Regions from separate parts of the Homo sapiens genome. Here region 2 is linked to region 1. A link means that fine-mapping ties the variant in region 1 to the expression of a gene that starts in the linked region. Tissue or cell type: whole blood. Region 1 holds a variant in brackets; the other region holds the start of a gene. All regions are shown on one strand. Distances are between the middles of the regions.

Evidence for each region. PIP is the estimated chance that this variant, and not a neighbour inherited with it, causes the effect.
Region 2: it holds the start of FAM171A1, and the variant in region 1 is fine-mapped to the expression of FAM171A1 in whole blood (TOPMed, PIP above 0.99).

What each region holds. Positions count from the first base shown.
Region 1 is chr10:15,168,784-15,173,984 of GRCh38, reverse strand. It overlaps LOC105376434 (a long non-coding RNA gene), which reads left to right. Exons shown (of 4, transcript XR_930699.2): 4 at 390-1,141. It also overlaps the pseudogene LOC124902566. Among named protein-coding and RNA genes, the nearest start is that of NMT2, 2.7 kb to the right of the region's middle. RefSeq lists a silencer at 5,093-5,201. The variant C/T (reference allele first, on the strand shown) is at 3,124.
Region 2 is chr10:15,368,054-15,373,183 of GRCh38, reverse strand. FAM171A1 (family with sequence similarity 171 member A1) reads left to right here and starts at 1,895. Exons shown (of 8, transcript NM_001010924.2): 1 at 1,895-2,228. The coding sequence starts at 2,132. RefSeq lists silencers at 1,849-1,898, 1,909-2,138.

The DNA of each region.
Region 1 (5,201 bases):
GTAATCCCAGCACTTTGGGAGGCCGAGGCAGGCAGATCACTTGAGGTCAGGAGTTTGAGACCAGCCTGGTCAACATGGTAAAACCCTGTCTCTACCAAAAAATACAAAAATTAGCCAGGTGTGGTGGCACATGCCTGTAGTCCCACATACTCAGGAGGGTAAGGTGGGAGAACTGCTTGAACCTGGGACCAGAGATTGCAGTGAGCTGAGATCGCGCCACTGCACTCCAGCCTGGGTAACAGAGTGAGACCCCATCTCAAATAATAAAAATAAAATTAAATTTAAAAACAGCTTTAGAAAGATATTGGGCTGGCAAACAGGGAAAAAAGGGGTGTCATAGATTCATTCATTCGTTCTATAGCTCTTATGAAGTGTCCTCTTTGTTACAGGCACTGTTTGGGTGATGGAGATACAGAGAGAAGCACATGACGTATGATTCTTCAGGAGCTGCTGGGCTAGTGCTGGGATGATGGCAAACATATAAACCCTCGGCAGGGGAGGCAACATGGGAGCTGTGTCCTTGGTGATGGCAGGTAGTAAGGAAAGGGCATTCAAGGGCCTGGTGCCTCCAGAGACGAGGAAGGGAGCCCGGGGCATATGGAGGGCCTGGAGAGGCTCAGGTCAGAGCTAAGACCAGAGGTACAGTGAGGCTATGGTGTGGAAGGGACTTGAACACCAACCTAGGGGGATTTGACTTGATGCAGAAGGCAACTGGGAGCCACATTGTTTCTAAGTCAGGGGATGAACATGCTCCGATTGCTATGGAAGAATTTTCCAAGCAGCGCTATTGAAAAGAGTGATGGAGCCTGGATGCAGGGAGACATGGCATCTGGAGGCTGCTGCAGCCCTTGGTGTGTATACAGCTGGCGCTCACCTCTTCCCCTTCTTTGTTTCCTCCTCCCTTTCCTGATTTTCCTCTATCTCTTTCCTCTTCTTTACCTACTGCCCTCACTTTCTTCATCAGTTACTTTCTCCTCCATCCTTTCTTCCTGAAAGGGCCAGAAGCTCTAATTGTGGACAGGCTAGAACAGATCCTTTTGCCTCCTTTAGTATTTCTACTTCGAGTAAAAATGTCTGATGAGACAGTGTACTTCTGTAATATATCATCCTTATCAATAAAATAACTAATGAAGTTTGGCAATAAACTATCCAGTGATATACTCGTGGGGAAAACCTGAACACATTTAAGGAGTTTGGCAAGCAGTGCAGTTTCAAGGTGACCCTATTTATAGAATGGAGGCACCTTCCACCTCCTAAATGAACACATACTTCCATCTGCTGTGGCATTGTTCGGCTTCCTCTAGAATTTTCCTTGGCATCACCCGCAAGCCCCAACTTGTCCTACAGGGACAAGACACAGACTCACCAACTGTGAAGTTCTGAAATGCAGCTGATCTGCAATACTCACTGTGGCACCAACCTGCTGGTTTGAACAAGTATGAAAACCTTTTAGCAGAATACCAAGCAATAGGAGGTGCAAATTACCCTCACAGTGACCACGAGAAAAGCTTCTCCAACGCACAGTTGCAAATGGTGCAGGGTAGTTACCGGGTTCCTCAAAAATTAAAAAGAAACGGAGTCACTTAAAAAATAAAATAAAATCCAGCCAGACTCTAAAGCAAACCAGCTAGCAAGAATAGCTAGTGTATTGCAAAAGTAATGGGCTTTGCTTTTGTGAACCCAGAATGGAAAGTGCAAACTAATGGTTTGGCATAAGTCTTTTTCAGACATACCCAGATATACAGATAGTGATCGTGATAGTAAAAAAAGGAGTGTCTTTAAGATTTTTTTTCTTTTTTTCTTTTTTTTTTTTTTTTTTGAGACAGAGTCTTGCTCTGTCACCCAGGCTGGGGTGCAGTGGCGCCATCTCGGCTCACTGCAAGCTCCACCTCCTGAGTTCACGCCATTCTGCCTCAGCCTCCTGAGTAGCTGGGACTACAGGCACCCGCCACCACACCCGGCTAATTTTTTGTGTTTTTAGTAGAGACAGGGTTTCACCGTGTTAGCCAGGATGGTCTCAATCTCCTGACCTCCTTATGCGCCCGCCTCGGCCTCCCAAAGTGCTGGGATTACAGGCGTGAGCCACCGCGCCCGGCCTAAGGATTTCTTTTGGTCTTTGTTTTTCTGTAAGTTGGTTAGTTATTACTGCATAATAAAGCACTCCAGGCCGGGCGCAGTGGCTCACGCCTGTAATCCCAGCACTTTGGGAGGCTGAGGCGGGCGAATCACTTGAGGTCAGGAGTTTAAGACCAGCCTGGCCAATATGGCAAAACCCCGTCTCTACTAAAAATACAAAAATTAGCCCAGCATGGTGGCGGGCGCCTGTAATCCCAGCTACTTGGGGGGCTGAGACAGGAGAATCGCTTGAACCCAGGAGGCGGAGGTTGCAGTGAGCTGAGATTGTGCCATTGCACTCCAGCCTGGGCAACAAGAGTGAAGCTCCGTCTCAAAAAAAAAAAAATGGTTAGGATAGTACGTTTTATGTTGTATGTATTTTTCCAAAATTAAAAAAGAAGTTAAAACAATTTAAATGAAACAAGACCAATTGTACAACTATAATCTTACATCTGTAGTAGGAGTGGGCCAGGCAGAATAGAAAATTCCCAAAGGCCTTTTAAAATACACTGGCAAGATACTACTTAGCCCAGGGCCTGGTGGCTAGGCTGGTTCTCTCCTTTCCAATTGGAGGCCTCTGCCGCAGACACGCTCCACCAGATCATCGGTCAGGCCAAGAAGCATCCAAACTTGATCTCCCTCTTAGTATTTATTGGAGCTAGAGGTACTGGAGCAGGACTGTATCTCTTGCGTCTGGCATTTTTCAATCCAGATGTTAGTTGGGACTGAAAGAATCACCCAGATCCCTGGAACAAACTGGGTCCCGATGATCAATTCAAGTTCTACTCAATTAATGTGGATCACAGCAAACTGAAGAAAGAAGGTCCAGATTTCTAAATGAAATGTTTCACTATAAAGCTGCTTTAGACTGAAGGTCTTCCAGAATCCGTCCGCACAATTTTCCACTTCACCAGGAAATAGTTCTCCTCTAAATGAATGAAATCATGTTGATGTAATCTATTGGAGATTACACTGATTAATAAATAACTGAAACTTGAAAAAATAATA[C/T]ACTGGCAGCCATTTCACAGTGCTCCCATCCACCAAATAAACTTTAGATCTAAGATGCTGGAAGTTGCCACTTGGTTCCAATTCTCCAAATTCTGAAATTAAGCCAGGGAAATAAGTAAAAATATTTAGAAACATAGTGTTTCTATACGGGACAGTAGGATTTAGGAAGCCCCAGGGTCATCTGTAAACTTTTCCTTCCTTCCAAAGATTAATGCTGTAAAACATTTGTATTATATAATACTTCAATCCAGTACTGTACCGATGTACTTCAATCCAGTACTGTACCAACTTGTTTCCATTCTGGGGAACAGATGTTCCCTGTTTGTCATTGTTTTCTAGTGTTTCACTGGTTTTTGATGCCCTCATTTTATTTTTCCAGGATTATTTGTTTTCTTATTCTTTTTTAGAGCAGTTCTTAGTCAAAACTTCTTGAAAATTCAGATAAATATATGACTGCTGAGTTTCCTTTGCCTTAAGTTTTAAAAACTCTTTTAGAGAACCCTTCTGGCAGGTTAGAGTGGATGATTTGATTGATAGGCTTGCTCCTGGCCAGTTTCCTGTTGGTTACCCGAGCGGGCTGCGGGTTCTCCAACAATCCATGTTCACAGAGATGAGCTGCAGGAACCTCACTCATCTGTATTTGCTTCTATCCTAAAGTTTCACAGAGGTGACATGTGACATTTTGCCTCAGAAATAGTTGCCGTTGTTAAAGGCAATATTGTATTTCCTTTTGTGTTTTGACCCCATTTGCCCTTCTTACAGAATTTTAGTTGTCTCAATGCCAAACAGCTGACGGGCTTTGAAATCGCTCTGCAGTTTTCATCTTTTGATACTTCTAGCTCATTGCGTTTTAAAAACATAGTCTCCCTTGGGGAAAAAAGCCATAAAATGCTCCTAGTATCTTCTGCAAAAAAAGGACCCACACCAAAAAATTCAGGTGGCTCTTTAAAGTCTCATTTTCCTCACTGAGCGGGTTCTGATGATTATCTTTGCAAAACCACTGCGGAGACTTCCGGTGGCCTAGCAGCACATTTGAACAAGATCATCTCAGCAAAGCAAAGGACAGGACTGCTCTGTACAGAATGCAGTAGCAAATAAGAGAGGCTGAACTTCACCGGTCTTCTATTTGGCAGTACTACAGAATGCCTCCCTTCCCTCTTCTGAGAGAGACAGCGGACAATTTCAGCACAGAAGGCCGTGCACGTTTGCTTGGAAATCTAGGTCATGACCTTGACTTTGGGAAAGCCAGGGTAGCCTACCTGAAACTGTCCAATCCCCCAGCATCGTGGACACGTCCCCAAGTCCCTCAAGATGTCTGTTCTGGTCTGAGCCGTCCGTAGTAGTGTCCAGGGAAAGCAGGGGTAGCTCAAAAATTTCTGTCAAGAGTTTTAGTGCTGCAAGCCTGGTTGGGACAGGGCGGTGGAGGGCTGGAAATACTGTTTTTGACTTTGAATTTGATTTTATAATGTATTAGATGGATAGATAGATGCGAAATGGAATTGTTAACATGTATGTGGAGGGGCGGGAAGAGTTTCTGGAAAGCCCCATCCCTGAGTGCCTACTCCTGAGTGGGAAAAACCCCTGCACGGGCTGGGAGCGCTCCCTAATTCGTCCAGAAGTAAAATCGCATGGCCTGTGTTCCAAAAATGCCGCCACTCAGGATGTCAAGTCTGCACGTTTGCAGCTTTGAGAGCCGAGCCCCAGGCAGAGGCACCGCGCAGGCCTGGATGTACAGGACTCGGCCCTGTGCAGGGCTGGCCAGGGTGAGCAGGGTTGGAGCTGGCGGGGCGGGGAGGGGCGGGGCCATCTGGGAGGGGCTGCGGCGGTGGGCGGGGTTAGAGGGCGGGTTTGAAGCCGGCAGGGTGGGGAAAGGCGGGGCTGGAGGGGAGGGGTCTCAGAGGCGGGCGGGGTTAGAGAGCTGGATTGAAGCCGGCGGGACGGGGAGAGGCGGGGCTTGGTGGGGAGGGACGAAGAGGTGGGCGGGGTTCAAGCCCGTGGGGCAGGGCGGGGCCGGCGGGCAGGGCGGGGCCGGCGGGCTGGGCGCGGACGGTGAGGGGCGGGGATGGAGGGCGGGGCGG
Region 2 (5,130 bases), 200 kb before region 1:
AGCATTGGTCCTAAGGGTGACTATAAAACCCATATGGGCTTCTGTACGTCCTAGTTTTTCTCATGTCTCACAGTCATTTGTCTTTTATAAGCCAACTGGGCAAGTGCCATCCTTCATTCTTTTTTTGGTACGGTGCCTGCCATGTCTAAATGCTCAATTAATGAAATTACAGTAATAACCCTCCTTCTGGCCTGGTGTTCTGGAAGCAGTGTGGGGTGGATGATGGGTCTGGAGTGGATTTTCCTAGGTCCCCAGTGGAAGTCGGAAGGTCACCGCAGTGCTAGTTGGAAGAGAAGGTGGAGAGGGACAAGTGGAGGTGAAGGTTGTGTGGAAGGCATACCGACAGGAGTGGGTTGAGAGAAAGAAAAGTTGAGGTTGGAATGGAGGGGGTCCCTAGGCTCAAGGAAAGTCTAGAGGTTTGGTTTTGTTTTGTGTGTGGTTTTTTTGGTGGTTTTATTTTTTGATTTTTTTTTTTTTTTTTTTTTGAGACGGGGTCTCAGTCTGTCATCCAGGCTGGAGTGCAGTGGCACGATCTTGGCTCACTGCAACCTCCCCACTCCCAGGTTCAAGCGATCCTCCCACCTCAGCCTCCTGAGTAGTTGGGACCACAGGCATGGGCCACTATGCCTGGTTAATTTTTTTGTATTTTTGGTAGAGACAGGGTTTCACCATGTTGGCCCAGCTGGTCTCTTAACTCCTGAACTCAGGCCATCCACCTACCTCAGCCTCCCAAAGTGTTGGGATTATAGGCATGAACCATCACACCCAGCCAAGTCTGGAGGTTTTTGTGAAGAGTTTCAATTTTGGGGTCAGACTGACTGTTTTATTAGAATTTTGGCTCTGCCACTGACCAGGTATGCACTTTTGGACAAATTCCTTAACCCTCTTTAGCCTCTTTTCTCATCTGTGAATGGGGGGGATAATGCTAACTACCTCTTAGATCATGTATTGTGAAGATGGACAAAGAGTCTCTGCTTGACCGAACTACAGTCAGGCTCCGGAACCTTCTTCTAGGCTCAGTTGTGCCCTTCCTTGTAAAATCTGCTTTCAGGAAGAACCCTGCTAAGTCAGTTTACCAAGAACCCTCCACCCTGGATATCTGATCAGCTTCCCCATCCGCCCTGTCCTGCCCAGCCCTGCCAGGGGATGTCTGACTTTCAAGAATCCCCCTTCCCCCTGATGTTTCCTCTTATAATTTTTCATTCCCTGCATCCCACCCTGGTCCTCGGTTATAAATCCCCACTTGTTCCTGCTGTATTCAGAGTTGAACCCAACCTTTCTCCCCGACTGCAGAATCCCATGGTAGGGCTTATACCTATTGCGATGGTTCCAAAGAGGGTCTTCTTTGCTGTGCTTTCACACGTGTCATGGAATAGTCTTTTTTCTTTAATAGGACAGAAAGTTTTAAAGCACCTAGGGCCTCAAAAGATGTGGATTTCCTCCCCACCCTAACCCCTAGAACCATCCAAGTACCATTCCTCCTGAAGCTGTCCACCCGCCAACACGTAGGTACTGCAGGCCTACTGCAGTCTATACTGGCTTGGGGAGTGTTTTTGCGGATCTTTAACACTGGGTGTGAAATCTACGTTGGGGGACACAACTACATTAGGATGGCACCTGGTGGGGGGGTCACACCCAGATACAATGTCTCCTGCGGCCCCTTGGGTGACCTGGTGTGATGAAAAGGGCTCCGCCCTGAAAGGCAGGTCTGGCTCTTCTGCGGGGCTGCGGGGATGGGGCGCGCCGGGGCAGTGTCGCCGGGGGTCGGGCTGGGGGCGCGACGCAGCGGCGCCGGGCGGGGGCGCCCTCGGCGCCGCAGCCGCCAGGTGGCACCACGGGCCCGGGGCCTGGGCGCGGGCAGCGGCGGCGGCGGCGGGCGAGGCAGGAAGGGGTTAAGGAGCTGGCGGAGCAGCAGCAGCCGCCGCCGCCGCCGCCGCCGCGGCTCTTCGGGGAAACCCGGCGCGGGGCGCGGGAGGGAGCGGCCGGGGCGGCGGGGCCGGGCCAATCGGGCGGCGGGCCCGGCGCGCGGAGCCAGCGACATGGAGGGGGGCGCGGCGCCCGGCCGCCCGTGACGCGCCGCCGCCCGGCCCGCTCTCGGCGAGCCCGAGCCGCCGCCGGCCCCGCGGCGGAGATGAGCAGGTCCGCGACGCTGCTGCTGTGCCTGCTGGGCTGCCACGTCTGGAAGGCGGTGACCAAGACGCTGCGGGAGCCCGGCGCCGGAGCCCAAGGTCAGTGGGCGGCGGCGGGGCCGGGGGCTTTGTGTCGCGCCGGGCCTGGCGCGGAGGCGGCGGCGGCGGCGGCGGCGGCGGGAGGGTCCCGGGCCGCGTGGTGGCGACGCAGCCCGAGCCGCATCGGGAGCCTCCGGGCCTGCAGCACCCGCAACGCGCTCCCGAGGGGGCGGCGCGGGCCGGCGACGCGGGGTGACCCGGGCGGAGGCTTCGGGGGCCGGGGATCGGGGGCTGGGTCGGGCGGGGGCGCGGGCAGCTCCAGCTGCTGTCGCCGCTGCGGCGGGGGCTCGTCTGGATGCGCCCGGGGGTCCCCTTTATGCCGCGCCTCGGACACGCGGCTCTGTCTCCCATGTCGCCGCGGACAGAGGGGCCGCCCAGGGCGCGCCGCCCGATCGCGCTCCCGGCTCCCCACGCCGGGCTCGGGTCTGGGAAGTCCCAGCTCCTGGGCTGCGCTGGGGCCTTTTGTTGTGGCGGGAGGGGGTGGCTGACGCCCCGGGGTGCCCCCTGTGTCCCGGGGCCCCGAGGTCCGCTGCCGCCACTAGCCACTAGCCTGCCGCAGTTTGGGAAAGTTTGGGGGGTTCTCTCCCCCTGCCTATCTGACGTCTCTTCCAGACCATAAGGGATTTGCTCAGCGGCCCATGAGTCTTCTCTGTAAGGGAAGAAAGAATTGAACTGGGAGGCCCTCATCGCTCACCAAAAAAAAAAAAAAAAAAAAGAAAAATCCTTTCCAGATCAGTTTGTCGCCAGCTCGTGCCTTTTGTCTCGTCTTTGGCCTCCACAAATCTGCTTTCCAGCCCTGGGAGTAACGTGGTCGCCTCTGAGAATGGCCACGAGCCTGTCTTTTGTTTTTAAAATCAGCGTTTTTTGAGGGGAGTCCCCCACACCCACCCTGAGGCTTGCTTGGCACATTTTTGTGGGGACAGCGTCGAGGACTCCTCTGTTGCTGGCGTTTTCAAAAGGGCCACTGAGGCCCGCAGATGAGCCTCTGCATTCACCCAGGGCACCGCTGCCTGGACTCTTGCCGGGGGCTCAGGTCTCTGCGAGGGAGCTCCCTGCAGCCCTGCAGAACCCCGGGATTCCGAGCCCGAGGCCTGTCCCCTCAGAAGGGTGTGTGTCCTGCAAAGTTGGCCCTGCAGGCCAAAGAAACGAGGAGTGCTGCATCCGAGGGTCTCCTTGCTGGAACCCCCTTTCCTCGGCTAACATGCTCAGGGTGCCTGGGAGCAGAGACGCCCGGGCTTCCACCACGATGTTGCTACGGGGAGGAAAGGCTCTGCCAACACTCTGTTGGGTTGAGTTTGTTGCCTACATGTTGAGTTGAAGGTTTTCATATTCTGGCACTTGCAGTATCATTTCCTGGTATATCTTAAATGCATTGCTGCTTCTATGGCCATGGTAGAATATGACCGTTATGAATTGTGTATAATTTTAGTAATGCATATCATGGAAGAGCGGACAGCTACAAAATACAAAAAGACCTATATGTCTCTTCGTGTAGGAAACGAATGTTTAGGACATTAGATCATCAGTGTTGCATTGCAGCTTCTTTTATTAATACCCTACTGCTTTTTTGAATCAGCTATTTTAGAGAATGATATTTGCACTTCAGCGAGGCCGTTAATTTTAAAGAGCAAGTTGAATTTTTCCTTTTGCACTTGAAATACCAATATATGGAAATATTAAATTCATGCACTTCTGAATTAGAGAAAGGAAGGCATGTCTTCAATATATATATATATATATATTCAATATATATATAACAGGTTTAGGTCTAAGACCACGTTTTACCCAGCTCTTGCTGCTAAAAATCCGCCTCTCAGGAATGGAATATTATGCGAAATGGGAGGGAAATGGTCAACATGAGAAGAGGTTTCTGCCATGGCTAGCAGTGGCTTAGTTTAGGGTATGGTTGGAGTGGGAGATCAAGTATCTTGGCATAGTTTACCCCTTGGATTACTTCCTTTGTTGTTATCTACTGTAAGGATGGCTTTTTAAAGCCTTGAGCCCAGGAACTCTTTCAGAAATCAGGTCTCACTACCTGGCATTTGGATTTTGAGCTAGCAGCATTTTTAAGGGAATGGACAATTTCTCCTTTGACATTAGAAGGTCAGTCCCAACTCACTGAGTTCTTCAAAGCATCTTAATGTTCACTTGCTGTAGTATGACGTAGTTTTAAAATTCATGTGTTCTCTGCTTTCCTGGATCATGTACACGATGAAGACAAATGCTGCATCTGATTTCACTTTGCATTTCCCACAGTGGGTTGTAGGTTGTTATGCATACAGTTGGTGCTCAGATGGTGCTGAGTAGGTAAGCATCAACCATAGCTAATACCTACACCATAACGCAACCTTTAGTGATCATCATTGGCTTGCATTTTAAGAAGAAAAGTTCAATGTTTACCTTCCCCAAAAGCTAATTTGTAAGAATCTTGCTTTTATGTAGAATCTGTTGTTTGAATCATTCTTTGAACAAGCATTGCACATACATATTATGCACCAACAGGATTTGGCAATTACTTTGGTAAAACTGCTTAGAGACCTCAAACAGACGGAAATCATATACTGTAGTAGTCCAACTAGATTGCTAGAACTAAATGACACCTTTTTGATTAAATGAGTCTTTATGTCATCTGATGAAACTAGCATCTGCAGAATTTCTTGGCATTACTTTGCTTTTTATATATTCAAGATAAAATTGGAGGCTTGGCTTCAGACTCTCTTCCCGTAGCTGCTTCGAATTGGCAAAGTGATTTCCAATGCCACAGTCAGTTGTCACGGTAAGGGTTGGCTTTGTTTATCATGAATTTGAACTAGCTCTAGACTATGACTATTTTTATTAAGTGTTTCCTCTCAGTTGCTCTGGAGCATTTATAGTATCGAATCTATTTTCTGGGAATTTTTCA